Linked DNA regions of Homo sapiens. The protein of the gene in region 3 interacts with the protein of the main gene of each other region in a pairwise test. Each region holds a gene or a part of one and is shown on either strand. Other genes may lie near its edges. The genes, in order: MAGEA2B, UBE2W, TRIM31, UBE2K, UBE2D4, UBE2E2 and ZSCAN1.

Region 1 (4,008 bases), on a different chromosome or scaffold from region 3:
TGCTTGGAACTCGGACTCCAGGTCGGGAAACATTCTTGGCCCCTCCTCTTCTTGGTTGCTGGAGCCCTCATCGGATTGTCTCCAAAGAGTGTAGTTGATGGTAGTCGAGAAGCTGGAGGCTCCCTGAGGACTGTGGGGAGGACTCGGTGAGTCGGCAGCAGGCACCTCCCCCAGGGTAACTTCCACTAGAGTAGAAGAGGAAGAAGCGGTCTGCTGCTCCTCAGTAGCAGGAGCCTGCGCACCCACCAGGCCCAGGGCCTCTCCTCGGGCCTCAAGGCCTTCTTCAGGCTTGCAGTGCTGACTCCTCTGCTCAAGAGGCATGATGACTCTGGTCAGGGCAGCAGGCAGGAGTGCGGGCAGGAGCTGGGCAATGAAGACCCACAGGCCTGGGGAGAGAAGGAGCGTGTGTGAGGCCTTAGGTGAGAACTGAACTGAACCTTGGAGGCTCTGACAAAGGCTTACTTACAGATCTTCTCCTTCAATGCTCCTCCAGTGCCTCGGGTCCTACTTGTCAGCCTGTCCCCCTCAGAACCTGAAGGAGGAAGTGGGAGGGCACCTCAGGGTACAGCCGGCCAGCACATGCTCAGGCTGCAGGACTGAGAATAGGGAGGGTGAGGCCAGGCCCTCTGGAGTCCCATTTGTTCTGGGCGGGTGGGGCCCTTGGTGTGCATTCCAGGCAAACCTTCAGTGTTGGCACTGTCTGCGTCCCCTCTGCTCTGTGACCTGAGGACACTGACTCAGACCAAGGCCTCACTGCCTGGTTCCTGGAGCTCCTGATTCCTGGGAGAGGAATGCACGGGCCTTCAGTGTGCAGACTGCAAGCACAGCCACGGATTCCCAGAAGTCTCAGCAGGGTTGGCCAGACTCCGTGAGGTCCCCACTCTACTTGGGTGGAGGGTCCCCTCTGTGCTCACTCAGGGCCCTCACCTTTCTCCTTGTAGGGCCTAATCCCACCCTTTTGCTGGCTTGAGAATCTCTCATGTCAAGAACTCACATCCCTGATATGGTACAGAAGGAGATGAGGGGACCCACATCTGGCCATACGTGACCAGGTCCTCCCGCGAAGGACAACGAGAGATGTCCAAATTCATTGGAGTCCAGGTGTCCTGGGTGACGAGTCCGCTTGGTCCTCACGTCCACTCCTGGCAGGGCCTGAGACCCTCCCTCTACTGACCTGACTCCAGCCCCTTCAGACCAAGGCCTCCCCTTCCCTGACATCAAAGATCCCAGGATAATGGAGGGACTTCAGCTGACAGCCCTGCCCAGGGTCTCTGAAGTAACCGCAGGGGCAGGGCAGATTTCTATGGGGCCCCCTGTCTGCATTCTGGCCCAGGAGTACCCTCAATCCTACCTCAGGCTCTCCACCTGGATGCTTGGCAGATCCTAGAACCACTGCATCTGTCGACCAGATGGGGGCCCCTGTGTTGACCTGAGTCACCTTCTGAAAACAAGGTCATCAACTCCCTGAGATCTGGAAACAGAAGTGAGGAGGGGCCACATCCTGTTACCCCCACGTGCGTTGTCCAGGGCTGACCCCTTTGGTTCTAGGGTGAACGTTATGATGGCCTCCTGTGGGTTACTCATCTTTACTCCTGCCAGGGACTGCCCTTTCTCAACCCCCAACCCCCTGAAATGAGCAGACAGCTCCTCTTTACACCAACACCTTATCTCCCTGAGGGTTCCCCAACCTCCTGCCTGTGGTACAAATGAGATTGTCACTTAGGGCCATCCCTGATCAGGTTCCCCCAGAGCTAAGAACAAGGGACGGCCAGACTCTGTGGCATCCCTTCTTTCTGGGCCGGGGGTATCCCCAGTCCTCATGAAGGGGGCACACCTTGGGTCCGGCAGATCCTGGGATTCCTCCCTCTGCTGACCTGAAGTCCCAGCCCTCAGACCACAGCCCTCAACTCTCTGTCACCCTGAAGGTGCAATGAGCACGGGGCACATTCGGCCACTGTGCCCAGGATCCCCCAGCCCAAGGTTGCCACTGATCTGGACTCCAAGGTCCCCTCAGTCCTCCCTCTTCTTCCTCCCCTTGACTCCTCGCAGGGCTGGGCCCCAACCCCCTGCTGAAGTGGGTCTGCATCCCTAGGATTCCCGCGGCTGAATGAAAAGGTGGCTCAGTTTGAGACAGGGGTACAGTGGGCCCCCTGTCCTGGCATGCTGGGTCCCCTAAGGACTCCACTGTCTTCCAGGAGGGCCTGGGCCCTTCCTCTGCATCCCAAAGGCCATACTCACGAGACCCAACCCCTTCCCTCCCTTAGCCGTACATGTGAACGTCAGGATCCGCGTGCTTGGCCGCCATTCCCGGAGCTTCCGTGGGTTGATTGCAGGGGCAAAGCCCGGATTCTGCCAGGATGGTGGTGGGGGAGGAGATGGGAATGGGGTTTGGGGGTGGGGTTGGTGTTTGAGGGATGGGGGTGGGGTTGGTGTTGGGGGATGGGATTGGTAGTGAGGGTAGGGGGTGGGTTGCCCTCAGTCCCCTCTTGGGGTCCTGACCTTGATTCCTGGCTGAGTCTGGGCCCTGAGCACTTCTAACCAGCCCTGCCCTGGTCACACAAAGCTCTTACGCCAGAGTTCCCTGCGGTTAAAGCGGCGGGGGGTGGCGGGGTGAGGTGGTGGCGACTCAGCCTGAGAAGTCTTCCCCTGCAGGGTGGTCCAGGCCCGGCAGCAGAGGCAGCGCTGGATTATTGGGGGCCCTCTGTCTGGGGTGAGGCCCGCCTCAGTCCTCCCTCGGCGTCTTACCTTGCCTCCTCACGGAGCCTGCGCCTGCTTCCCTCCGCCGACGTCAGGCCGTTGCTCAGGGCGAGAATCTCGCTGTCCTCTGACCTCCAATGCGCAAGTCAGTGGCGTCACATCCGGGCCCGTGACTTCCCTGGGTTCACGGCAAGGGTGGAACCGGATTCTGCCCGGATGGGGATCTGGATGGGGGGGTGGGGGTAAGCATGAAGATGGTGTTGGTGTAGGGGTAGGGATTGGGACGGGGATCCTGAGGCTGTAGATCCTGGTGGGGTCGGGGGAGTTGGGGGTGGGAGGGGCCTTTGGTCATCCCTCAAGGTCCTGACTTGGATGCCAGACTGAGCCTGGACCGCCATCCTCTGCCGATTGTGTTTGCTCCCCTCAGACCAAGTCTCTGACTCTGAGTCGGCCCGAAGTGGCATTGGGGGGAGGGGTGTGCTCGGGGTGAGATCATTGCCAGTGTGTACCAGGGCTGACAAGAGGGGCTGAGCTGGATTCTGTGGTCCCACTATGTGGGTGAGGGTGGATCCTCAGTCCTCACTCAGGAGGGTCCTCTTCCTCACTCCTGGCTGTTTGATGAAGGAATGGGTGGGAGATGCTCTGTTTCTGTCACCTCTGAGCATCTGCGCATCTGCGCATCTGCACCCCTTGTAGAGAATGGCTGCGGGTGCCAGGCCAGGTGCTCCCTGCAGGGCAGGAGCTCCCGCGATGATAGTGACCTCTGGGAGAAGACGCACACCTTCCCACGGGGGCTCCTCCCCAGCCAGAGCTACACTTGGCAAACCTTTGGTCCTAAATGATTTATTCTCTGAATTGAAGAAATACGGTTTACATATCTTCTAAGTATATATGTAGGTAGCAATATATATATTTATTTCTATGAACTAACACCTACCCTTAGTATGCATGATTCACTCTGATATCCTAGTCTACTTCCATTCCAGTCTTTGTGTTCTGTTGAAAGAATTTTTTTAAAAAACATAATTCCTCTCCCACTCTGTTGGTTTCAGGTTGTTATTAGCAGAACTCTGGAGCCATGCTGCCTTAACAAACCCAATTTTCCTGGTGGACACTGCTATTACCTAGGGCTCTTGGCATCGTGTTTTCAGGGGCTGCCTCAGATTGTGCAATGAAGTGAAGTGGAAAATTCAAAACTTTTATTCTACCCATTCTTTCATCTGCCGTCTAGGCAGGCTACAAACCTCCCCAACATCTCTGCCGCTAACCCCCTCCAACAGACACTGCAAGTGTCACACACAAGTACCAGCT
Region 2 (3,500 bases), on a different chromosome or scaffold from region 3:
CTTACTATTGTAGAACTGCTTAATAGACTGACCTAAAATAGAATTAAACTAATGCAGAATTAGCTATTTAGGAATGCTTTTTGAAGTGTTAAGTAATGGACAAATATTTACGGTAGTCACTGTGTGCACATTTAAGGGATAGAGGGAAAGTATTTTTTCCTGCCTTAATGAAGCAGGAAATCTAAAGCAGAAAGTAATATCAGATTATCCTTCAAGGCTGGCCACCGCGCCTGGCCTTCAAAGATAATCTTCATTATCAAGGAGAGTTTTTAAGGTGGGATGATCCCAGCGTGGGACAAAAATTAGCTGGGTGTGGTAGCACATTCCTGTGGTCCCAGCTACTTGGGGGGCTGAGGTGGGAGGATCACCTGAGCTCAGGGAGTTCGAGGCTACAGTGAGCCAGGATTGTGCCACTCTACTCCAGCATGGGTGACAGAGTGAGACCCTGTCTCAAAAAATTTATATAAAAATAAAAAATAAAGTGCCGCTGCACTCCAGCGTGGGTGACAGAGTGAGACCCTGTCTCAAAAAGTATATATAAAAATAAAAAATAAAGGGATGATCTGGCATCTCTCTGAAAATATAGTTCTCCTTAGTATTTACCTAAATTAAGCATTTGTTAGATGAATTTTATTCCATCTTTATATTATTGCTGTCTGCTTCATTATGAGTAGTATCTGCAAAATACTTGTTCATGTTTGTCAGGTATTAAAGTGTCCTCATTTGAAAGCCTTTATTTGTGAATGTAGTTCTTGGATCACCAAAAAACAGCGCATGCTTTTGAGTTGTTTTATTCTAAGAAAATACTCTACTTTCATTTAGCTGCTTTTGTAAAACTTCATTAGAGATAAAGAACACAGGCTCTGTAATGAAAAGACCCAAATTCAGGTCCTGTTTCACTACTTTTTAAAAAGCTATATTGCACAGAAATCATTATGGAGTGTAGTGGGTAGACAAAAACAGATTAGCAGATAGATAAACATATAAAACTGCATTTTGTATTTATCTTACCCAAACTTGTTTTCTGTAGTACTCCCCATGTTGGTATATAGGCAACTTCATTCCATTTGCTCAGCCAGAAACCTTGGGTTCATTCCACCCTACAGTCAAACCATTAGCAAATTTCTATCTGCTCTGCTTTCAAAATATATCCAGAATTCAACTGATTTTCTGAATTCCTGATGTAAATACAGATGACATCCTCATTTCTTGCCTGGATTATATTAGCAGTGTCATACTGGTTTTCCTACTTCTGCCCTCATCCGTTTACTTATCTCTTTAGATTCCCAATAGATTCTTTCTAAACAAAAGTCATGTCATTTCATTCATAATCCTACTATGACTTCCCTCTCTTCCTCAGAATATAATCCAAAATCCATGTTATAGCCTAGGAGGTCTTAACCTCTCCCAGGTACTCATGTCTCTGTAGCCTTATTGTCCTCCTTGCTACTCCTGCTTGTTGTTTTCTCTATTTGGAATGCTCTTCTCACACATCTGGATGATCTGGATGGCTTCCTTTTTTTTTTTTTTTTTTTCTTTTCACTCATAGCTTTGTTCAAATATTTTTTTTTTAAGAGAGCCCTTCCTGACTACCCAATATAAAATAGCTCTCCCATCCCAGCGCTAATAATTTCCTTTACCTTGATAAATTCTTCATACCTTTGGCTATGTATTAATTAGCTTATTTTCTATTTTCTTGGATGTAACCTAGTGCCTGACATGTAGGAGAGTTCAGTAAATGTCGAATAAATGAATAAGTGAGCACAGCTTTTGGAATCAGATAACCTTGGGTTTGAATTCTAGTGTTGTTGTTTAATAGCTGTGTAACCTCCCACCTCCAAATATAAAATAGGGATGATAAAAACAGGTTATTTCATTTCCTGGATCTTTGGAATTGGTGAATTATCTTTTAATGCTATGTTTCCCATTTTAAGCTAGCTCTACTAGATGCTTTTGTCTTTTTTTTTTTTCTGATTTCTAGTCCCTGCACTAGCTATCAATGGAAAAAATAGATTTCCTTTATGACCATGTGTTACATGAGGTCTTTCTTTGTATTTTCAGACCACAGGAAGGAGGGTGGAAGTATGGTTTCCAGTAAGTGTGTGTTTTTTTGCCAATCCTCTTCAAAACTTGAGAATTAGTCAAATAAAATTGTGAGCTATTAAAGTCCATTTTGACATCCTTTTAATGCACAATTTTTTCTTCTAATTGAAATATAATCCACATATAAAACTTACCCTTTTAAAGTATACAGTTCAGTGGTTTTTAATCTGTTCAGAACCATCACTGCTGTTTGCAGAACATTTTCATCACCCCAGAAAGAAACTCCTTATCCATTAGCAGTCACTCCCTATTTCCCCCTTTCCCCAGTGTCTGGAAACCACTCATCTATTTTTTGTCTCTGGATTGGTCTATTCTGGGTATTTTGTGAGAGTGGAATTATATTATATATGACCTTTTGTGCCTGGCTTCTTTCACTTAGCTGTTTGTTTGAGACAGGTGAGACAGGGTCTCATTTTGTCACCCAGGCTGGAGTGCAGTGGCACAATAGGCTCACTGCAACCTCTGCCTCCTGGGTTCAAGTGATCCTCCTGCCTCAGCCTCCGTAATAGCTGGTACTACAGGCATGCACCACCATACCCAGCTAATTTTTGTAGTTTTTTTTTTCCCTGAGACAAGAGTCTTGCTCAGTCTCCCAGACTGGAGTGCAGTGGCACCATCTCGGCTCATTGCAACCTCCGTCTCCCAGGTTCAAGCAATTCTTCTGCTTCAGCCTCCCGAGTAGCTGGGACTGCAGGCGTGCGCCACCACACCCAGCTAATTTTTGTATTTTTAGTAGAGACGGGGTTTCACCATGTTGGCCAATCTGGTCTCTTACTTCTGACCTCAAGAGATCCACCTGTCTTGGCCTCTTAAAGTGCTGGGATTACAGGTGTGAGCCACTGTGCCCAGCTAATTTTTGTATTTTTGTAGAGACGGGGTTTAACCATGTTGGCCAGGCTGGTCTTGAACTCCTAGACCTTGTGATCCGCCCGCCTCGGCCTCACAAAGTGCTGGGATTACAGGCATGAGCCACTGTGCCCGGCCTTAAAAAAAGCTTTTATATAGACAGATTCACTGTGTTGCCGAGGCTGATCTTGAAACTCCCAGTCTCAGCACCCCTCCTGCCTAGGCTTCCCAAAGTGTTGCGATGACTGGCCTGAGCCACCATGCCCAGTTCATAATGTTTCTGAGGTTCATCCATGTTGTAGCTTGTATGAATACTTATTCCTTTTCGTAGCCAAGTAATGGCCCATTTTTTGGTTGTACTGCAGTTTATCCATTCACCAGTTATTTAAATATCAGATATTTGTGTTTCCTGTTTTCATTCATCAATGGATTAATTGACAGTTTGGATTGTTTCCCCTTTTTAGTATGAATAATGCTGTGAACATGTATGTACAAGTTTTTATGTAGGCTTGTGTTTTAATTTGTTTTTGTTAATATACCTTGCATGTAGG
Region 3 (4,024 bases):
ATTATCATTATTTTCTAAATCATCATGCCAGTCAAACAAAACCTGTCAAAAGTTAAATTCTGCTTCTAGGGGCCAGCAGTTTAGGAGTGTAAGTAAAACAATTTACAGATGTTAGACTGTTTTAATTTAACCCTAAAACAAACAAAAAGAAAGGTCTGGAGGTATAACATTTCTGAAAGTCTTTGGTTTACAGCAGTTGCTATAAGGGGAGCCACATAATTTATAGTCCAAACTGGACATTTCTGAAAGTGAAAGGAGGTGCTATTAATAATTACACCAGGACAAAGTGAAACCCAGGATGGTTCCAGGCAAAGCAGAGTGTATGATCACTCTGGCTATTATTATAATAATCATCCACAAGCCCTGTTTGACCTAAGATTAAGATCAGACAAAAATTAATGGTGTACTTCTTGCTGGGGACAGACGGCTGATAATGGAGAGTGAGGAGGTGAGGGTGGAAGCTATACCAAGAGAAGGGGTAGGGAGGAAGCACCCTTTTCCTTAAGACAAGAGGCAAGGAGGGAAGGTTAGGACATGAATGTACAGAAGGGAATGTATGTAACACTGGTTGATATATTCCTAGTCATAACAAAAGCCATAGAAGGCAAGTCAGGGATCAGAGAAGCACCAAGAAGGAAGAAGAAGAACATATAGACAGAATTGGCAAAGCAAAGAATGGGCACGGAGACACCAGCATACTGGAGACATACAGAGAAAAAATCAACAGAGGACAGACTACTACAGGTGTTGTGGGGAGACAGAAGATCACCAGGGGCAAGAGCAAAGTGCAAAAACAAAGAACAACTCTTTAGAAAGGAAGTTCCTTGCCTATCCTACTGAGCTAGGGAGTGGTTGGTTGACCCTGTGACTGGAAATTCCCCAAGGTAGGTGATGATAACCTCCACATTTTCACAAAATTCTGTGAGGAGCCAAAGCACCTGAGGTAGAGAATTGCCCTTCCCCTACTTTCCAGATGCTCTACCAAGGCTTGAACTTTGCATACAAGATGCCCAAAGCATTGCAGTGAACTGGCTGTGACCTTTCAGTAGGCATCACCACCCACCCCTCCACTCCCTACTCAGAGCTGATTGGGAAATCCCCCATAAGTGGTGTTTGGTGCCCCGGTCATTCTGATCTTAGTCAACCACCATACAAACATACCTTTAGTCCAAAGTTCAGGACAACTTATTTCACTTTATAAGCAGCCTATTACACATTCAAAGTATCCATTTGTTCTCAAGAGGTAGCAAGGTAGGACTGCCCATCTGTTTTCCTCTCTTTATAATATTTTCTAGATCCTAAATTTTACGCTTTTCTATCATTTCTTTATTTTTTTCTCCCTCTTCTTTTCCTCTCTCTCTGCTCTTCTAACTAATTGGCAGAATCTCTGACCTCCACTTTCTCTGACTCCCTTCTCCCTTCCTAGAAACAGTATCCACAGTGGACTCCGGGGCTCCTACAGACTTGGCACAGCTTCCTACAGTCTTGAAACAGCCCTGTTGTTCTGTCATGGCCAGTGGGCAGTTTGTGAACAAACTGCAAGAGGAAGTGATCTGCCCCATCTGCCTGGACATTCTGCAGAAACCTGTCACCATCGACTGTGGGCACAATTTCTGCCTCAAATGCATCACTCAGATTGGGGAAACATCATGTGGATTTTTCAAATGTCCCCTCTGCAAAACTTCCGTAAGGAAGAACGCAATCAGGTTCAACTCGCTGTTGCGGAATCTGGTGGAGAAAATCCAAGCTCTACAAGCCTCTGAGGTGCAGTCCAAAAGGAAAGAGGCTACATGCCCGAGGCACCAGGAGATGTTCCACTATTTCTGCGAGGATGATGGGAAGTTCCTCTGTTTTGTGTGTCGTGAATCCAAGGACCACAAATCCCATAATGTCAGCTTGATCGAAGAAGCTGCCCAGAATTATCAGGTAGGCATTTGAGGTTTCTTCCCTGTTCCCCCATCAGCCCAGGAGTTCAGTGAGGCCCTGGAAACTGCTACCTTCCCACTGAGGGTTTGCACCCCATTGCCCCCACCCCTTGGGCTTGAGTGGGCAGCTCGCAGTCAGGCACAGTGGGTTCAAAGAGCTGAGTCTGGGGAACTGCTGACTCTCTAAATCAAGGTGCAATGGAGAATGGAAAGGATGTGAAAATTTGACTCAGAAGGTTTGGGCTCAAGCCCAGTCTTGTGAGTTTACTGTACAACCTGCAAGGAATCACTTTACCTCTCTGAGCCTCAGGTACCTCACCTTTCAAATGGCAAAAACAAAACAACTCTCTTAAAGTTGTTGGTAGGACAGATGAAGGGAAGTTTGTAGTTCTTTGATAATTCCAAAGCACCATCCATAGTCCTAGTTAGTCATAAATAACTATGTTCTGGTCATTTAGGTCACTTAGGCTCCAGATTTCTCCCTTCTCAGCAACCCCTTTCCCCGCCAGCTTGAGAAAGGCGAGTCCTTAATAATTACACAAGGACTCACCTGGAGAGTGTCACCAGCTCTCCTAAGAGACCAGGAGGATTTTATGAGGCCAGAAATCTCCAGGCACAGCCTGTCCAAACGGCCCTCTTTCCGCAGGGGCAGATTCAAGAGCAGATCCAAGTCTTGCAGCAAAAGGAGAAGGAGACAGTACAAGTGAAGGCACAAGGTGTACACAGGGTCGATGTCTTCACGGTAAGAAAAACTCCATCCCACGATCTCTGGAAGCAGAAACATCTCTGCCAAAGCTCCTGGAATCCCCTATTACACTGACCCCTCAGAAAAAGATCCAGTGAGCCATGTCCTCTCCTCGGCGCCTCAGCACCTGACCGGCCAGGCGGCATCACCTCCCGCGTCGGCCTCGCTATTACAGCGGGCTGACTGCTCAGTCTCCACCGGCAGACAAGGTGGGGCACGGAAAACCCGCGCTGGTCTTAGAATCGCAAGTACAGGTTTTTAAGGCCGAGCTGCGCCCTCAACGGATTCCCCAATTAGAAAATGAAGACATTGGCCGGGCGCGGTGGCTCACGCCAGTAATCACAGCACTCTGGGAGGCTGAGGATCGCTTGAGCCCAGGAGTTTGAGACCAGCCTGGGCAACATAGCGAGACTCTCCTCTTAATTAAAAAAAAAAAGAAAGAAAACTAGCCGGGCGTGGTAGCACACGCCTGTAGTCCCAGCTACTAGAGAGGCTGGGAGGTGAAAGTATTGTTTGAGCCTGGGAGGATGAGGCTGCAGTGAGCCGTGATCGTGCACTGCACTCCAGCCTGAGTGACAGAGTGAGAGACTGTCTCAAAAAAAAAAAAAAAAAAAGACAGAAGGAAAATGAAGACATTGTGACCCCACTTACCTATTTTCCTGTGTGCGTGAAAGGAATAAAATCTATATGAAAGATTATAAACTGAAAAGCCTTCTGGAATTGTATTAGACAGTTCCTTGAAGGCAAGTGGTAAACCATAAATTAATAATTTCGCTTAAAGCTGAGCACGTAGTAGGTGCTTTTAGAAGTTTGTTCTCCTCTCCTTTCCTTTCTTCCAGGTCTGCCCTGGCACATTGCTCTGGTTGGGAATTCCACACAAACTTAATAAAATTAATGGCTGAATAAAGTGGGCTAGAAGGACCTTCGAGGCCATCCTCTCACCCTCTGCCTGTCCCTGTTTCTTAGGACCAGGTAGAACATGAGAAGCAAAGGATCCTCACAGAATTTGAACTCCTGCATCAAGTCCTAGAGGAGGAGAAGAATTTCCTGCTATCACGGATTTACTGGCTGGGTCATGAGGGAACGGAAGCGGGGAAACACTATGTTGCCTCCACTGAGCCACAGTTGAACGATCTCAAGAAGCTCGTTGATTCCCTGAAGACCAAGCAGAACATGCCACCCAGGCAGCTGCTGGAGGTGAGTCCCTTGGGGGCAGAATTGCAGAGAGGTAGCAGCCCATCCCTAGTCTCAGGTCAGAGCATGGACCACTGGCAGAATACCTGAGATTGCCCCAACCATCCTACCTCTAGCCCAGTGCTGTCCAATAGCAATATGTGAGCCGCATGTATTAGAA
Region 4 (3,500 bases), on a different chromosome or scaffold from region 3:
CTGGGGAGTTCAAGGCTGCAGTGAACTGTGATCACGCCACTGCATTCTAGCTTTGGTGACAGTGAGACTCTGTTTCAAAAATAAATAAATAAAAAGGGAAGAAGCTAGGGAGCCCAGATGTGTCTAAACCTACGCCCAATGGACAGAGCTCAAAGTCTTTGTAACACTGTATACAAGGAATTCACCCCAAACATATTACCTGCACAGACTTTGATTTTTTTTAACCCAATCTATAGGCTTTCCTTGCTCAACCCATTCCAGAAACCATAAGAAATACTATTTAAATATTACATAAAACTGTAACTTACATAACTTTCAAACACACTTTTGAAAAAATAAAATAAAAATAAAAACTTTAAAAACCACTTTTTTACTATTTGGAGACAGTGTGTTGCTCTGTCACCCAGGCTGGAGTGCAGTGGCACAATCACCGCTCACTGCAGCCTCGACCTCCCAGACTCAAACGATTCTCCTGCCTCAGCCTCCCCAAGTGCTGCAATTACCGATGTGAGCCACCACGCCTGCCTCTAGTCTTAGAAACAACTGTTCAAATTCTCGTTACATTCATTTTTGGTAGAAAATTTTACCTTTTTATTAAAATCAAAAGCGAGAAATTTTAAAAGAAAAACACTAAAAACGGGAAACAAACTTAAAAGTTTTAAAAATAAAACATTCAAAGCCAGTATATATTTTTTGTCTTTACTGTCTGTGTCCATTTATTCTTTAGATAAATTATCTTACACATCTGATACAGTTAAGTCTCAAAGTATTCTTTTTTTTTTTTTTTTTTTGAGATGGAGTCTCGCTCTGTCGCCAGGCTGCAGTGCAGTGGTGCCATCTCGCTCACTGCAACCTCCACCTCCCCGGTTCAAGCAATTCTCCTGCCTCAGCCTCCCAAGTAGCTGGGACTACAGGCACTCACCACCATGCCCGGCTAATTTTTGTATTTTTAGTAGAGACGGGGTTTCATCATGTTGGCCAGGATGGTCTCGATCTCCTGACCTCGTGATCCACCTGCCTAGGCCTCCCAAAGTGCTGGGATTACAGGCGTGAGCCACCACGCCTGGCTGTGTTCTTCTTATATAGTTAATAAATAGCCAGGAATCATTTTCTTTTTTCATTTATGAGACAGGGTCTCGCTGATGCCCAGGCTAAAGTGCGGTCACATGATCACAATTCACTGCAGCCTTGACCTCATGGGCTCAAGCATCCTCCAGCCTCGGCCTCCCGAGTAGCTGCCACTATAGGCACATACCACCAGGCCTGGCTGATTTTTTTTAAATGTTAGTAGTAACAAACTCTCACTATGTTGCCCAGGCTGGTCTTGAACTCCTGGCCTCAATCGAGTCTCAGCCTCCTAAAATGCTAGATTACAGGCATAAGCCACCCCACCTGGCCATAAACACTCTTTTAAAGAGTTTTGTCAGGCCAGCCTGGCCAACATGGTGAAACCCCCGTCTCTACTAAAAATAAAAACATTAACCGGGCATGGTAGTAGGCGCCTGTAATCCAAGCTACTCGGGAGGCTGAGGCAGAATGGCTTGCAACCAGGAGGTGGAGGTTGCAGTGAGCTGAGATCGTGCCACTGCACTCCAGCCTGGGTGACTGAGCAAGACTCTGTATCAAAAAAAAAAGTTTTGTCTACATAGTTCTCAACATATGGCAGTCTGGGGACATTTTTAGTTGATGCATCCAGCAAGAAGAGATAGTGGGGACATGCGCTGGGGCTCTGCAGTGCTACCTGCATATACTGGTAGAGGTCAGGGATGTTGCTAAACATCCCACAATGCACAGGAGAGCCACTCAACAAAGAACTATCTGCCCAAAATGTCAGTAGTGCCAAGGTTAAAAAATCCATGGTCTACAGAAATCAAAAGACTTACTTTTAGAGATTTACAACTACTTCTATTACAGAATAATCTAGATCAAGCTAGATCAAGTACATTAAAATTTTAAAGGAAAATAGACACAAAAATCTATTTAAATGATGAGGGAAAACTTAATGTACTATATAGTAATTTTCACGAAACCAATTTGTTTATGCCATAGATTTAAACACGCCCTATGAGACTAGAAAATGTTGGCCAGGTGCAGTAGCTCACTCCTGTAATCCCAGCAATTTGGGAAGTCGAGGCGGGTGGATCACCTGAGGTCGGGAGTTCAAGACCAGCCTGACCAACATGGAGAAACCTCGCCTCTACTTAAAATACAAAATTAGCCAGCCATGGTGGTGCATGCCTATAATCCCAGCTACTCAGGAGGCCGAGGCAGGAGAATTGCTTGAATCCAGGAGGCGGAGGTTGGGGTGAGCCAAGATCGCGCCATTGCACTCCAGCCTGGGCAACAAAAGCAAAACTCCGTCTCAAAAAAAAAAAAAAAAAAAAAAAAAAAAAAAAAAAAAAAAGAAAAGAAAAGAAAAGAAAAGAAAATGTTACCAAAGTGCAATTACAACATGAAAAACCAACAGGTGCCATATAGCATAAGACCAACAAGAGAGTGCACTGATTTAAGGGTGTTTTATTTCATTAAGTTTCAAATTTTAAAATATTTGGTATATTGAAATTCAAGTAAATCTGGCTGGGTGTGGTGGCTCATGCCTGTAACCCCAGCACTTTGGGAGGTTGAGGCAGGCGGATCACTTGAAGTTAGGAGTTCAAGACCAGCCTGGCCAACATGGTGAAACGTCGTCTCTACTAAAAATACAAAAATTAGCTGGGCGTGGTGGCGGGCACCTGTAATCCCAGCTACTCAGGAGGCTAAGGCGGCAGAATCTCTAGAACCTGGGAGGCAGAGGTTGTGGTGAGCTGAGATCGCACCACTGCACTCCAGTCTGGGCGAGACAGCGAGATTCCTTCTTAAAAGAAAAAAAAAAAAACATGAAAGAAAGAAATTCAAGTACATCTTAAAGTTAATTATAGGTAACACTTATTTCAATGAGTTTAAACTAGCAAATTAAACTGTGTTTAAATCCTTTAACCAGTAATACAAACCAGGCTCGATTTTTTAAATTAATTAAAAGCATGCCTATCCTTAGCAAGTCATGACAGCGTGGGACAATATGAACACAAGCAGACCTAGATCCAAATCCCAGGCTCTGTGATTGCAGACAAATAATTTAACTTCTCTAAATCTCTATTTTCTCATCTAGGAAATAGGACATCTAAAGAACTGTGCTTAAGAATTAGCAATAACGTAAAAACAAATGATACTAAGAACAACTAGCCATTCTACAAATGGCAGCTAGTTATTAACAGCAGCAATAACTAATAGTAAATAATAAAACTTATGAATAAAACATTGATTATGGGTTTATATCCTCACAATTAATAATTTACTTATGTAATCCTACTCATAAAATAACTAATTATAAAATGTACTTTACATCAATATTCCATGCCTAACAACTTTGGAATATTATTTAAAACTACTTAAAATTCACACTCATATTTAAAAACAAACATCTAAAACAAAGAAAATAAATATTAATTAATAAAAAGAAA
Region 5 (3,500 bases), on a different chromosome or scaffold from region 3:
CCATCCATTTCTAAAGCTTTCCATCACCCCCAACAAATTCTGTATCCATGAAACAATATTTCTCCTATTTCCACCCCCCATCAGCCTCAGGTAATCTCTCATCTACCGTCTGTCTCTATGAATTTGCCTAGTCTAGATATTTCATGTAAGTGGAATCATATATTCATTCTTTTCTTTCCGGCTTATTTCACTTGGGATGTTTTCATGTTGTAATGTGTATCAGAACCATATTTTGTTTATCTGTCATCCACTGATGGGCACTTGGGTTGTTACCAGCTTCTGAAAATCATGAGTAATGGTGCCGTGAACATTGGCATACACATTCTGTCTCACTCTGTTTTTGATTCTTTGGTATATGTACCTCTGACACCACTCTCCTTGAACACATAGTATCTCCCCTCCCCACCTATTTTCCTATGGCTGCAGTTACTGAAGCCTCACAGGGAAGGATTGGTGTCCCAGAGCCCAAGAAGCCCACAAAGTGGAGGCAAGGTGAGTGGGCAGAGGACAGACCTGGAAACCCTAGTGCTGGGCAGCTCAGCCTCGGCCAGCACCTGTGAGGGACAGCAGAGGCCTGGAACAGGCAGTGCTGCTTCTCCCTCTCTCTCCCAAGAAGCTGCCCAGAGCTGCTGCTTCAGTCTCCGCCAGGGAAGAGTGGAAGTGGGAGAAAATAATAGGGACTGCCCTTCCCCTTGGCAGAGGCAAGTGGCCACTGCCCTACCCTGCCCTGCCCCTCCTCCACTGTCCTGCTCTGCTCCCAGGAGCTGCAGCAGCACCAGGTCCTCTAGACCAACTCCAACAATATTTACACCAGCACCCAAGTTTGACTTGGCCAAGGGCACTTTCCAGCAGCTGATGTGACTCCTCAGGCCAAGCTGGCTTTCTCATGCGCCAGAAGAGGGAAGCGGTGACTATGGGACATGAGAGGCAGTGCAGGTTCTACTTTGAGTATAAGCTGACCAGCCAAGCTGCTGTGAACTCATGGCCTAGACCTCAAATGAAAAGCCATTCAAGAGAAAATGAAGGGAAAAGCATTGATTGGTTTTCTTAAATACTGCTTGGCTGATAATTTGGTTGTTTGGTTTTGTTTGTGTTTGTTTGTTTTTCAGACAGAGTCTGTTGCCCAGGCTGGAGTGCAGTGGCACGATCTTGGCTCACTGCAACCTCTGCCTCCTGGGTTCAAGCGATTCTCCTGCCTCAGCCTCCCAAGTAGCTGGGATTACAGGCATGTGCCAGCATGCCCGGCTAATTTTTGTACTTTTAGTAGAGACGGGGTTTCGCCATGTTAGCCAGGCTAGTTTCAAACTCCTGACCTCAGGTGATCCACCCACCTTGGCTTCCCAAAGTGTTGGGATTACAGGCGTGAGCCACCGCACCTGGCCTAAGTTGGGGGGTCTTAATTAAAATGCTCCTACAACTTGAAGCCCCCCAAAATACTTACAGTCATCACCGACAGGTCCTGCAGAACACTGGGCAGGAGGATCCCTCTGCAAGTCGGTTAATTCCTAGAACATGAGAGAGTGGGTCAGAGCTGCTGTATGCTGGGGATGCTGCCTCTACATACCAATCTTGGTAGCTGGAAGGAATTCTCCTGGTGGGAGGAGGCTCCTAGGCCTCAGGAGGGGGTTAGAGACATGGTGGGTCATAGGACTCTACTCCCTGCTACAAAGATACCAGAGAAGTAGGTATGATCATTTCCATTTTATACATTAGGAAATTGAATTGTAAAGTGATGAAGTTACCTACTCAAGGTACAGAGCTGGAAGAGGGCAGGGCAAGAAGTCAGTCACATGTAGCTCTGCCTTACCCCCAAGCCTAGCCTCCTACCTCCTCAGGTAGAGGACATCCCCAGGCCCCCAGGTGCTGAAGATATGGAAGAAAAGCAGCCCAGGAGAGAGTTCTGGGAGAAGGATAGGTGCCAGGTTTTACTGCTAGGCTAATGAATTAATGCATGGAAGCAGCACCAAGGAAGTGCTAATCTCTCTACTTTACCTCCCCAACCACCATCCCAATCACCCTAGTCACCACTGGTTATGTGGCAAGTCCTAGGGCTCTGAATGTGGAGACTGGCACGTGAGCCAAAGTTTAACACTGCACCAGTGGGGATCAGGGATTATACCACGACTAGATTCCCTTTATGGGACACCAACCCTGAACTAAGCCAAACACTGTCCTATCTACACAAACTCTCCTGATTTCACCATATGTCTCTGGACATGCTGATCATTTCAGTAACCACATCTCTGGCCATCCTGCATTTATCCCCTTCACTTCAAATTTAATCAGCCAAGATGGAAGTATTAACATCACAGAAGCCAGCAAATGCTACAAATCAGGGCCATGTTTTCTCCCCGAGGGTTGATCTTTAAACATCTACCAGTATACCACTGGCCAATTCTCGATTAGTATCTAATATATCTGAACCCATTTCCTCATAAGTAAAATGAATTATACTTGGCAAGCACTCAGGAAGCAGCATTAGGAGTGGCCAAAAGAGAATTTAACTTGGGGAACAAGTGAGGTCATACAAGGGGACCAAGGACAGGCTCAGAAATGCAAGAGCTACAGAAATCTCTGTGGAACAGTTCCTTTTAGCTTACCTCTCTGCTATGTGCCCCTCAGCACCTCCACTATCACTGTGCAGGAGAATTGTTTATATTCATTGCTACACTGCATGGATAAATTAGCCCTATGACAGAACTGCTAAGGCAAATCCTGAAGAGGTTATATGAACAGCCAGGGGCAGGAAAAGCCAGCAGTACAGACCAATTCCCCTCCACCTCACAAGGTTTTCCCACACCTCTATGCTTTTGCACTGCCTATATGCAGAATCCATGTTCCCCCTTTAGAGGTGTGATGAACAGTTACACCAGCACTTAATGATCCCTGAAAGGCCACGTGTGGATCCCTATTGTTAGACTCCAACCAGCACCCAGGAGTTTCGAATACTAACTGGCATTTCAAGGAAGAATGGTGTGACTTGAAAGAAACTAGTCCACTCACACATCGAATTCCTGTGCTCACCTCAGGGTTAGAAGACTCAGGTCTGAATCCAAGCTCCGTCACTGAGGAAATCACTTTCACCTCTTTGGGCCTCAGTGTAATTACCTGTTAAGTTGTAATCATACTTGCCTGCCAACTTGCCGGTACTATTGTGTGGCTACAAATTTTGCATGTAAGTTTTTAATGTATATAATGTAAGCAAGAGCACCCAGTAAATATCAAGATAATAGTGGTATAGAGAATGCTACAATTAGTATTATAAAAAGGGAGAGGAATAAGTAGAATATATATATTTCTAGAAGAATACTTCGACACTGGTTGCCCACCCAGGAGGGGAACTGGATGGCTAGGGACAGTCTTGGGTGGGAGACTTTTCCCTGTATATCCTGTGCACATTTTGAACCATGGGAATTTATTACCAAATCATTAAATATATAAATATTTTATTAATTGTAAAGGATTAAGTAGATTAAGTTTATATAGTAATTACTATTACA
Region 6 (3,500 bases), on a different chromosome or scaffold from region 3:
TGGAGGGATGGTGAGTGGTTATTCCAAGGTACTAGAGTATTCAGTTTCCCTTTCGTGGGGGTGTATTGCTGATCTCTGTTGAAGGAGCTGTTTGAAAGTCAGAGAGCCCTGAACTTTAAACTTTGAGACCTGTATACTAGACCATGCTAGGGTGGGGAAGAGGGTTCAGTTTGTTTTGCCATCACAACACAATTACCGGGGACTCAGCTGGCTGACCCTTCTGTTTGCCAGACCACAACACAAATGACCTGCTTAGAGGTGACCTGGAAAATGGGGGGTGGGGTTAGGATGGATGAGAAAGGTGGGGAATAGAGAAAATATGACATTTAGGTGAAAGAAGGAAGTCGATGTAGGTGGGAAGGAGATGTTCAGGTACAGATTGTAGTTCCACGCAGATGAGGAAGATCTAATTCAGTCCTCAGTGTCTGATTGGGTTTTTACAGGGCCTCTTCAGTTTGTCAGAAAAGGGGAAGGATTGGTTGGCCAGGTCTGTGGGGAATAGGGTTCTGCTGGGCCTGTGCTTTATTCTATGATTGCTAGTTAGCAAAGTCACCTGTTGTGGTGAGGCTCTGCCTTTTCCTCTAACTGGGAGCACCACTATAAAATACCTTAAAATCATATTTCTTGGGTGATATGTCAAAGACCAAATTCTGCTTATGAAAGATGTACTGCTTTATGTGTGAACATGAGTTTTTCAAGTACGTGGGTCATCTTTATTTTACTACAGTATATAGAGAAAGTACGGATTATTCAAACCTAATGATAGATTTCACGAGGGAAAAATATAGAAGATATTTTTCTGCACTGTATGTAGGAGATAAAACCTAGTTTAGAGATAATGTATGTGCAGAGCGCAGCGCAGTGCCTGATTGGCAGTAAATAGAAAGTGGTTGTATTGCATTGGTGAAAATAGGAAGTCTCTTTTGAGTTGCTTCCTGGCTGAAAGAATCCCTCCATTGGCAAATTGTTGTGAATCTGTGATTTTCAAATTGTGGTTCATGATCTTCCTCTAGAAAGGTCTTCAGTTGGTTTTCGGGTGACAGTGTATGAAATGATGTAATTATGTACTATTTATTTTAAATATAAAAATGCGGCTTCACTACTAATTTTTTAATTTAAAAAACCTTATTTTCCCCTCTCTCTTCCTCCAATTCAGCTGATAGTGAAGTTGTTGGTTCTTTGCCATTTCTGCTGAACTTAGGAAAAAAATTGGGAATTATGAGCACAGAGGACCCCACATCTTTTAAGTTCACTGCCATGTCCACAGTGCCTAGCAGAGTACAGTCACAGTATTTATTTACTGGCTGCCTTGGAACCCTGAGCTTCTTATAGGGATCGGATTTTCCATGGATATTAGGATCTTAGTACTAGTGTGTTCAGAAGATTAAAAGTTAGAGGTAGTTTCAAAATAAATTTTATTTCACACTTTTTTGTTGACGATCATTTTTATTCAGATGAGAAGCCTTTCCCAAATAGTGTCATTTTATGAGATAAAGAGTAGCATTGAAGAGCTTGAACTCTAGAGACAGCATCTACGTTTGAATCTAGGTTCTAGCATTTAGTAGCTATAGCTCTGTGGTCTTTTTTTTTTTTTTTTTGAGGCAGAGTCTTGCTCTGTCACCCAGGCTGGAGTGCAGTGGTATGATCTCCAACTCCTGGGCTCATTCAGTCCTCCAGCCTCAGCCTCCCAAGTAGCTGGGATTACAGGGTTGTGTCACCACACCAGGTTAAATTTTTAATGTATTTTTTGTAGGGATGGGAGTCTCACTATGTTGCTCAGGCTGGTCTTGAACTCATGGTTGCAAGCGATCCTCCTGCCTTGGTCTCTCAAAGTGTTGGAATTACAGGCATGAACCACTGTGCCTAGCCTCTGTGATCTTGATGTATAATTTAACAGCTCAAAGCCTCGATTTCTTCTTTCGTAGAAGGAAGATGATAACGGTACGCTGTTCAGAAGGTTCTTGTGAGGACTAAATGTGATAAAGCATTTATTTGGCACATAGTAAGCTCTCAAAACTGATGCCGTCACTGATAGACTTTATGTCAGTTAAAATCTACGGTCATATTTTTCAAGTCTGTTTGGTACAAACTTTGGAAAAATGAGGTATATGTTAACCTTGGAGGCCTTAATGCTATTGTTAAACTAGAAATACTCAGATGCCGTAATTAAATACATTTTGTAGTGACTTAGGAAAAGTGCTTGCACGTAGGTGCTCAGTTATTATATGAAATGTACTATAATTGTAGAATTAATAATTGTAATGCAGTAATTATAGAATTAATAAGCTGGTATAGAACTATGATTTGAAAAATCTCATTTGTGATATTATAGAATAGTGGTATATAATACAGAAAACATTTAAGTGGGTATTTAAACAGCAGTAGAAATTAATTTCTGTCTCAGAGTTAGGAGGAAAGATTACAGTTACATCTTAGATGCATTTTTGCTTTTCTTTGGCAAGAGTTTCTTAAAAAATTGTCATGCTCTTATCACAGCCTGTTCTCTTGATATGTCTATATCACTCTTGTTATATTTGCAAGTCTGTTGTTGGACTATATCTGCAGTGACAGATTTAGATTATTTTGATTAAATTGACTAGTCAGTTCAATAAAACGTCTATTTTGAGATCTTCTTTGAATTTATTCTGCTGCTTTTACGGGTTGATACATCTGTAAATGTGAATTTTATATCATATTTATTCTAAATTAACTGTTTAGAGTGGACATGGTGATTTTATTTTTGGACATTCAATATGATACTGTTCGAGGTATGGTTTTTGGTTTCAGACTAAATTTTTGTTAGGTTGAAAGATTGATTCCACTGTATTCCAGTTTGAACTTTTATCATATGGGCTCGTCTAAGTTTGTTTTCCACATGAGAATGAAATAGTACTTTTGTAGATAATCTTTTGTAATTACTGTATTTTCTTCATTCTAAAAGTACATTTTAAAACTTTTTAATGTTTCTGAAATTGGGACACATCTTAAAATTTATGTGCACAATTATTGATGGTGTGTCTTAAAATCAATGATCTTTCAGAATCATAGATATATAGTATATACCACCATTTAGAATGAAACTCTAGACTTCTTATTTGCAATGGCAATGTGTTTTCTAAAGATTGCTTTGACATTTAAAAAATTTTAATAATTAGTTGCATGATGCTTTTTTGAGAATAAGTTCATTTTGGAAGGTTTTCGCTAGGTGATTCAATTGATTAGAGTAGGGGTTTTTAGGTTGACTGAGGAATGTAGTCTGTAAGGGAATATAGAAAGTTGTCTAGATGAGATGAAGGGTTTTAAAAAAATTCCTGCTAAGAAATTACTTTGCGAATCTGCGTATCCACACATTCATGTTCTACTTGGCTCTCAGTAAATTTTTGAATTTTCTTTAACTCAAGAAATGTATGTGTGTGTTTTAAACATGTTAGTACATATACACTGCTTCATTTTTCTGAACCCTTAGCCCAATATATTGATGTTAAAATGAGTGTTTCGTA
Region 7 (4,130 bases), on a different chromosome or scaffold from region 3:
CTCTCCTGCTTCTTCTTCAGCAATGAGCAGCTTCAGCTATCCTGAGCTCAGTCCCAGAGCTGAGGACCCTCCTTGCATCATGATCTCACCCCCACCTGATTTCAGATACAAAACGAGTATCTGTGGAACCCTACTATTCTGGCACATGGTTACATTGTAGACATTAATATTAAAACTTATTTATATGAAATGTTCTTATGTAAGGTTTCGTTAAAGTATATGAAATATAGGACACATTGATACTAATTCCTTGTTTTTCTTTTTCTTTCTTTCTTTTTTTTTTTTTTTTTTTTTTTTTGAGACAGAGTCTCACTCTGTTGCCCAGGCAAGGCTGGAGTGCGTTGGCAGGTCTCGGCTCACTGCAACCTCGGCTTCCCCAGTTCCAGCGATTCTCCTACCTCAGCCTCCCGAGTAGCTGGGATTACAGGCACGCACCACCATGCCTGGCTAATTTTTGTATTTTTAGTAGAGACGGGGTTTCACCATGTTGGCCAGGCTGGTCTGAAACACCCGACCTCAGGTGATCCGCCTGCCTCGGCCTCCCGAGTTCTGGGATTACAGGCGTGAGCTATCGCGCCCGGCCTCCTTGTTTTTCTTGAGTTTACATATAACTGAGGTTTCTTTTTTCTTTCTTTTTTTTGGGGGTGGGGGGACGGAGTCTCGCTCTGTCACCCACGCTGGAAAACTGGAGTGCAATGGAGCAATCTCGGCTCACTGCAACCTCCGCCTCCCCGGTTCCAGTGATTCTCCTGTCTCAGCCTCCTGAGAAACTGGGATTACAGGCATGCGCCACCACGCCCAGGTAATTTTTGTATTTTTAGTAGAGACGGGGGTTTCACCATATTGGTCAGGCTGGTCTCGAACTCATGACCTCGTGATCCGCCTGCCTTGGCCTCCCAAAGTGCTGGGATTACAGGCGTGTCACCGCGCCCGGCCGACGTCCTGTATTTTTATTTGCTAAGAGTGGCGATCCTAGTCTGGGACATACTTGTACTAAACATATTTATATTAAAAACAATGTTTTAACATACTACTCTTGGACACTGTATAAAACGGTTGCGTGTCTGGAATGCCGTCGTTTTGCCCCGCGGCCCCATCGTACATGCGCATCCCCGCAGCCGCCACCGTCTCCACTTTCCGCAGCAGCGTCCCTGACGCTGCGCGACCCGTTGCCAAGGCGACTGGAACCGCGGCCCGAGGTAACTGGAGGGCACGGCGGGGGCGGGGCGCTCATCCCAGGCGGCTTCTGATTGGCCTCGGCCGCCTCGTGCGTCACAGCCCCGCCCCTGCCCGGGAGTCCCGCAGCGGTGACTTGTCACCGACGCCCGGCGTGATCCAGCGGACCAATGGCGGCCGCCCGCGGCGCGCAGGGTGCGGGGATGGGGTCCGCCCGCGGCGTTGGGCGCGCTCGCCAGCCCAGGGGTCGCCATGACCGAGTGGCCCAGGCCCGAGCGAAGCCCGCGCGCGGTGAGTCCGCCGCGGCCCATCCGTCCCTCCGCCCGCCAGAGCGTCCATCGGGACGCCCACCCGGGAGGGTCTCGGCGCCGCGTCGGCGGGAGCTGGCCCGGGATCGCGGTCCAGGGGCGCGCGTCGGGGGAGGCGGGCCCGGGCCCGGGAGGGGGCGGGCCGGGCCGGGGTTCCAGAGCCCATCGGGAGTCCTGAGGTCGCCGTAGGGGAGGGAAGGGGAAGGCTAGAGGCCACGCGGGGCGGGGACTGGGGGGGCTGGGGCCGCCCCTTCCGCAGGGACCCCGACCCCTGTTGGCATCCGCCTGTCCGTTTGAGGCCGAAGCCCCTCTACGTACCCCCATTGCCCGCCCAAACACCGCTCGGCCGCGTCCAAGTTCTCCCTTCCACACCTGATCAGCATCCCGGGACCTATCTCCCTCCTGAACAGCCGCCCCCGGACCCATCTCCCTCCCTACCCGGCCCCTTGGGCCCATCCCCCACTGGAACAGCAGCCCCCGACCCGTCTCTCTCCCTACAAGCTCCCCCTCCCCGCCCCAGGCCCATCTCCCTCCTGAACAGCCGCCCCCGACCCATCCCCCACCCAATCACCCCACCATCCTCCCCCCAACCAGCCGTCCACAGCCGTCGTCGCTGCCCCTCCCCTGTATTCCCAGTGCGCTGCCCTTGCACACTTCCCCAGCTCGTTTATTATGGAACTCCTCCGTGTGGCATCCTAAGCTCCCAACGCCCTCCCCACTGTAAGCCCCCTTCTCAAAGCCAGAACCATTCACTGACTGGCGCAGTGAACACGTCTTCTATGTCACTAAGCATCCGGCATCAGCGGCAAAGCCCTTCTGCCCATCCCCGCAATAGAATTTGGGGCTCGGGCTGCAGATCTCAGTGCCCATGCCAGGTGAACCTGGCCCTTCCACAGGCACTGAGCCCTCCAAGTGACACTCTCTCACACACACACATCCCCAACATTAATCAGAGACCCCTACCAAAGTAGACTTCTAGGACCCCAGGGCCACCACAGCATTGCCCATGGGGGGGCCCAGATCCTCCTCACCAGCCATGTAGACCTCAGTCCCCTTCACATCATCCCAGGCCCTCTTCATCTTCCAGAAACAGCCACCCATCAGTCCAGGACTCTCATCAGCTCAGGTACCCCCACATTGGCCTAGGTGTTCCACATCAGCCCCCATATAGACCCCAGACACACCCATGGACCTCTGGTGCCTTCTGCTAAGACCTCCTCTTTACCCTCATCCCTGATAAACTTAGCATCTCCTCCCACAGACCTCAGCCCAGGACCCTGGAGGATGCTGAGGGGCTACAGCCCCCCTCCCTAGAGTCTCCAGGGTGAGCTGCCATGAGCACCTGAGAGAGTATAAGGTCTGAGGCCCCAGGGCAAAGGGATTTCTTGAACCTGTGGAGCTTCAAAATAGGCCCTTTTTTCTTATTCAAAACTACATATATAAAAGTGTGAATACAACATAAGAGAGCATTTTTGCCTGTGGCCTTGGCAGGGAAGACCAAGCTGGTAGTTTCCCAATCAGGGTGCAGGTGGCCGGGTACGCTGACTCGAAGATGGCTGGCTGGGCACAGTCCCCGTGAGTTGCCTTTCTGCCACCCTGCACCTCTCCTTTCTCCTGGATTGTAAAACCAGATGCACGAGAACTGCAGAGTGTATGAAAAATGCAGCAGAGGATGAAGAGGGAAAAATCCCATGGAATCCCTCCTTTTCACTTGTCATAAGCATTTCCCATATGGTCAAAAATCCTTCCTAAAGATGTCTTGTTTTGTTTTGTTTTTCCATGTTGATGAAGGTCACATGGGAGCCCGACACCATTTGGAGGAGATTCAGAGAAGTATGAACAGCACAAAGCACTTGGCCGCCCCCCATGGGCGTCTTCCCAGGACTCCCTTTCTATGACACTCACGCATCATCCTGCATCCCACGTTCCCTGTGCCTCATGTCATCTGTACATCATGTGTCTACTCCCCGTGGTCATGTCATAGTGTTGTGTACTGGGCACGGTTGAATACTCCCATCACATGATGGGGGAGGTAGTTGATCCCACCACGTTCAACTGTTGGGCACTTTTGTAGTGAATCTTGGTGCCTGAATCTCGCATCTTGCACGCAGTCTACCAAGTGTTCTTGATATATAAATGGCCACAGTGCTTTCCAGAAAGGTCGTGCCAATTTATATTCTCACCAGCGGATCAGTCCAGAGTACAATTGTTAAAGACAAACAAACGAAACCTCCCTGCTTATTTTTATTTTTACAACTTTTAATGTTTTCTTCAGTTATATGTTCACCATAGTCGGCTTGGAAAATGTACAAAAGGTAACTTCTTTTTTTTCTTTTCTTTTTTTTTTTTTTTTTTGAGACAGAGTCTTACTCTGTCGCTCAGGCTGGAGTGCAGTGGCACAGTCTCAGCTCACTGCAATCTCCGCCTCCTGGGTTCAAGCATTTCTCCTGTCTCAGCCTCCCGAGTAGCTGGGATTACAGGTGCGTGCCACCACGCCCAACTCATTTTTGGTTATTTATTTTTTTTGGGATGGAATCTCACGCTGTCACTCAGGCTGGAGTACAGTGGTGCGATCTTGGCTTACTGCAACCTCTGTTTCCTGGGTTGGAGCAATTCTCCTGCCTCAGCCTCCCACGTAGCTGGGAT

Evidence for each region.
Region 1: the proteins of TRIM31 (region 3) and MAGEA2B interact in a two-hybrid assay, tested with the Homo sapiens proteins (one large-scale study listed by BioGRID).
Region 2: the proteins of TRIM31 (region 3) and UBE2W interact in a two-hybrid assay, tested with the Homo sapiens proteins (one large-scale study listed by BioGRID and IntAct).
Region 4: the proteins of TRIM31 (region 3) and UBE2K interact in binary tests that used the Homo sapiens proteins (3 or more experiments, as listed by UniProt).
Region 5: the proteins of TRIM31 (region 3) and UBE2D4 interact in a two-hybrid assay, tested with the Homo sapiens proteins (one large-scale study listed by BioGRID and IntAct).
Region 6: the proteins of TRIM31 (region 3) and UBE2E2 interact in a two-hybrid assay, tested with the Homo sapiens proteins (one study listed by BioGRID).
Region 7: the proteins of TRIM31 (region 3) and ZSCAN1 interact in a two-hybrid assay, tested with the Homo sapiens proteins (one large-scale study listed by BioGRID and IntAct).

The regions. Positions count from the first base shown.
Region 1 is NC_000023.11:152,713,420-152,717,427, reverse strand, and holds the start of MAGEA2B (melanoma-associated antigen 2), read right to left. Parts: upstream 2,801-4,008; 5' UTR 2,746-2,800; intron 2,582-2,745; exon of another isoform or gene 2,500-2,581; intron 2,350-2,499; 5' UTR 2,271-2,349; intron 1,472-2,270; 5' UTR 1,352-1,471; intron 781-1,351; exon of another isoform or gene 683-780; intron 533-682; 5' UTR 467-532; intron 387-466; 5' UTR 322-386; coding exon 1-321. UniProt on the Homo sapiens protein: Reduces p53/TP53 transactivation function through recruitment of HDAC3 to p53/TP53 transcription sites. Also represses p73/TP73 activity. Proposed to enhance ubiquitin ligase activity of RING-type zinc finger-containing E3 ubiquitin-protein ligases.
Region 2 is NC_000008.11:73,868,863-73,872,362, reverse strand, and holds part of UBE2W (ubiquitin-conjugating enzyme E2 W), read left to right. Parts: intron 1-2,061; coding exon of another isoform or gene 2,062-2,094; intron 2,095-3,500. UniProt on the Homo sapiens protein: Accepts ubiquitin from the E1 complex and catalyzes its covalent attachment to other proteins.
Region 3 is NC_000006.12:30,110,291-30,114,314, reverse strand, and holds the start of TRIM31 (E3 ubiquitin-protein ligase TRIM31), read left to right. Parts: upstream 1-1,224; 5' UTR 1,225-1,251; intron 1,252-1,426; 5' UTR 1,427-1,509; coding exon 1,510-1,926; intron 1,927-2,475; exon of another isoform or gene 2,476-2,571; coding exon 2,572-2,667; intron 2,668-3,636; coding exon 3,637-3,867; intron 3,868-4,024.
Region 4 is NC_000004.12:39,701,136-39,704,635, reverse strand, and holds part of UBE2K (ubiquitin-conjugating enzyme E2 K), read right to left. Parts: intron 1-3,500. UniProt on the Homo sapiens protein: Accepts ubiquitin from the E1 complex and catalyzes its covalent attachment to other proteins. In vitro, in the presence or in the absence of BRCA1-BARD1 E3 ubiquitin-protein ligase complex, catalyzes the synthesis of 'Lys-48'-linked polyubiquitin chains.
Region 5 is NC_000007.14:43,936,436-43,939,935, reverse strand, and holds part of UBE2D4 (ubiquitin-conjugating enzyme E2 D4), read right to left. Parts: intron 1,506-3,500; coding exon 1,442-1,505; intron 1-1,441. UniProt on the Homo sapiens protein: Accepts ubiquitin from the E1 complex and catalyzes its covalent attachment to other proteins. In vitro able to promote polyubiquitination using all 7 ubiquitin Lys residues, but may prefer 'Lys-11' and 'Lys-48'-linked polyubiquitination.
Region 6 is NC_000003.12:23,209,827-23,213,326, forward strand, and holds part of UBE2E2 (ubiquitin-conjugating enzyme E2 E2), read left to right. Parts: intron 1-3,500.
Region 7 is NC_000019.10:58,032,695-58,036,824, forward strand, and holds the start of ZSCAN1 (zinc finger and SCAN domain-containing protein 1), read left to right. Parts: upstream 1-1,330; 5' UTR 1,331-1,467; intron 1,468-2,048; exon of another isoform or gene 2,049-3,275; 5' UTR 3,276-3,317; exon of another isoform or gene 3,318-3,788; coding exon of another isoform or gene 3,789-3,799; intron 3,800-4,130. UniProt on the Homo sapiens protein: May be involved in transcriptional regulation.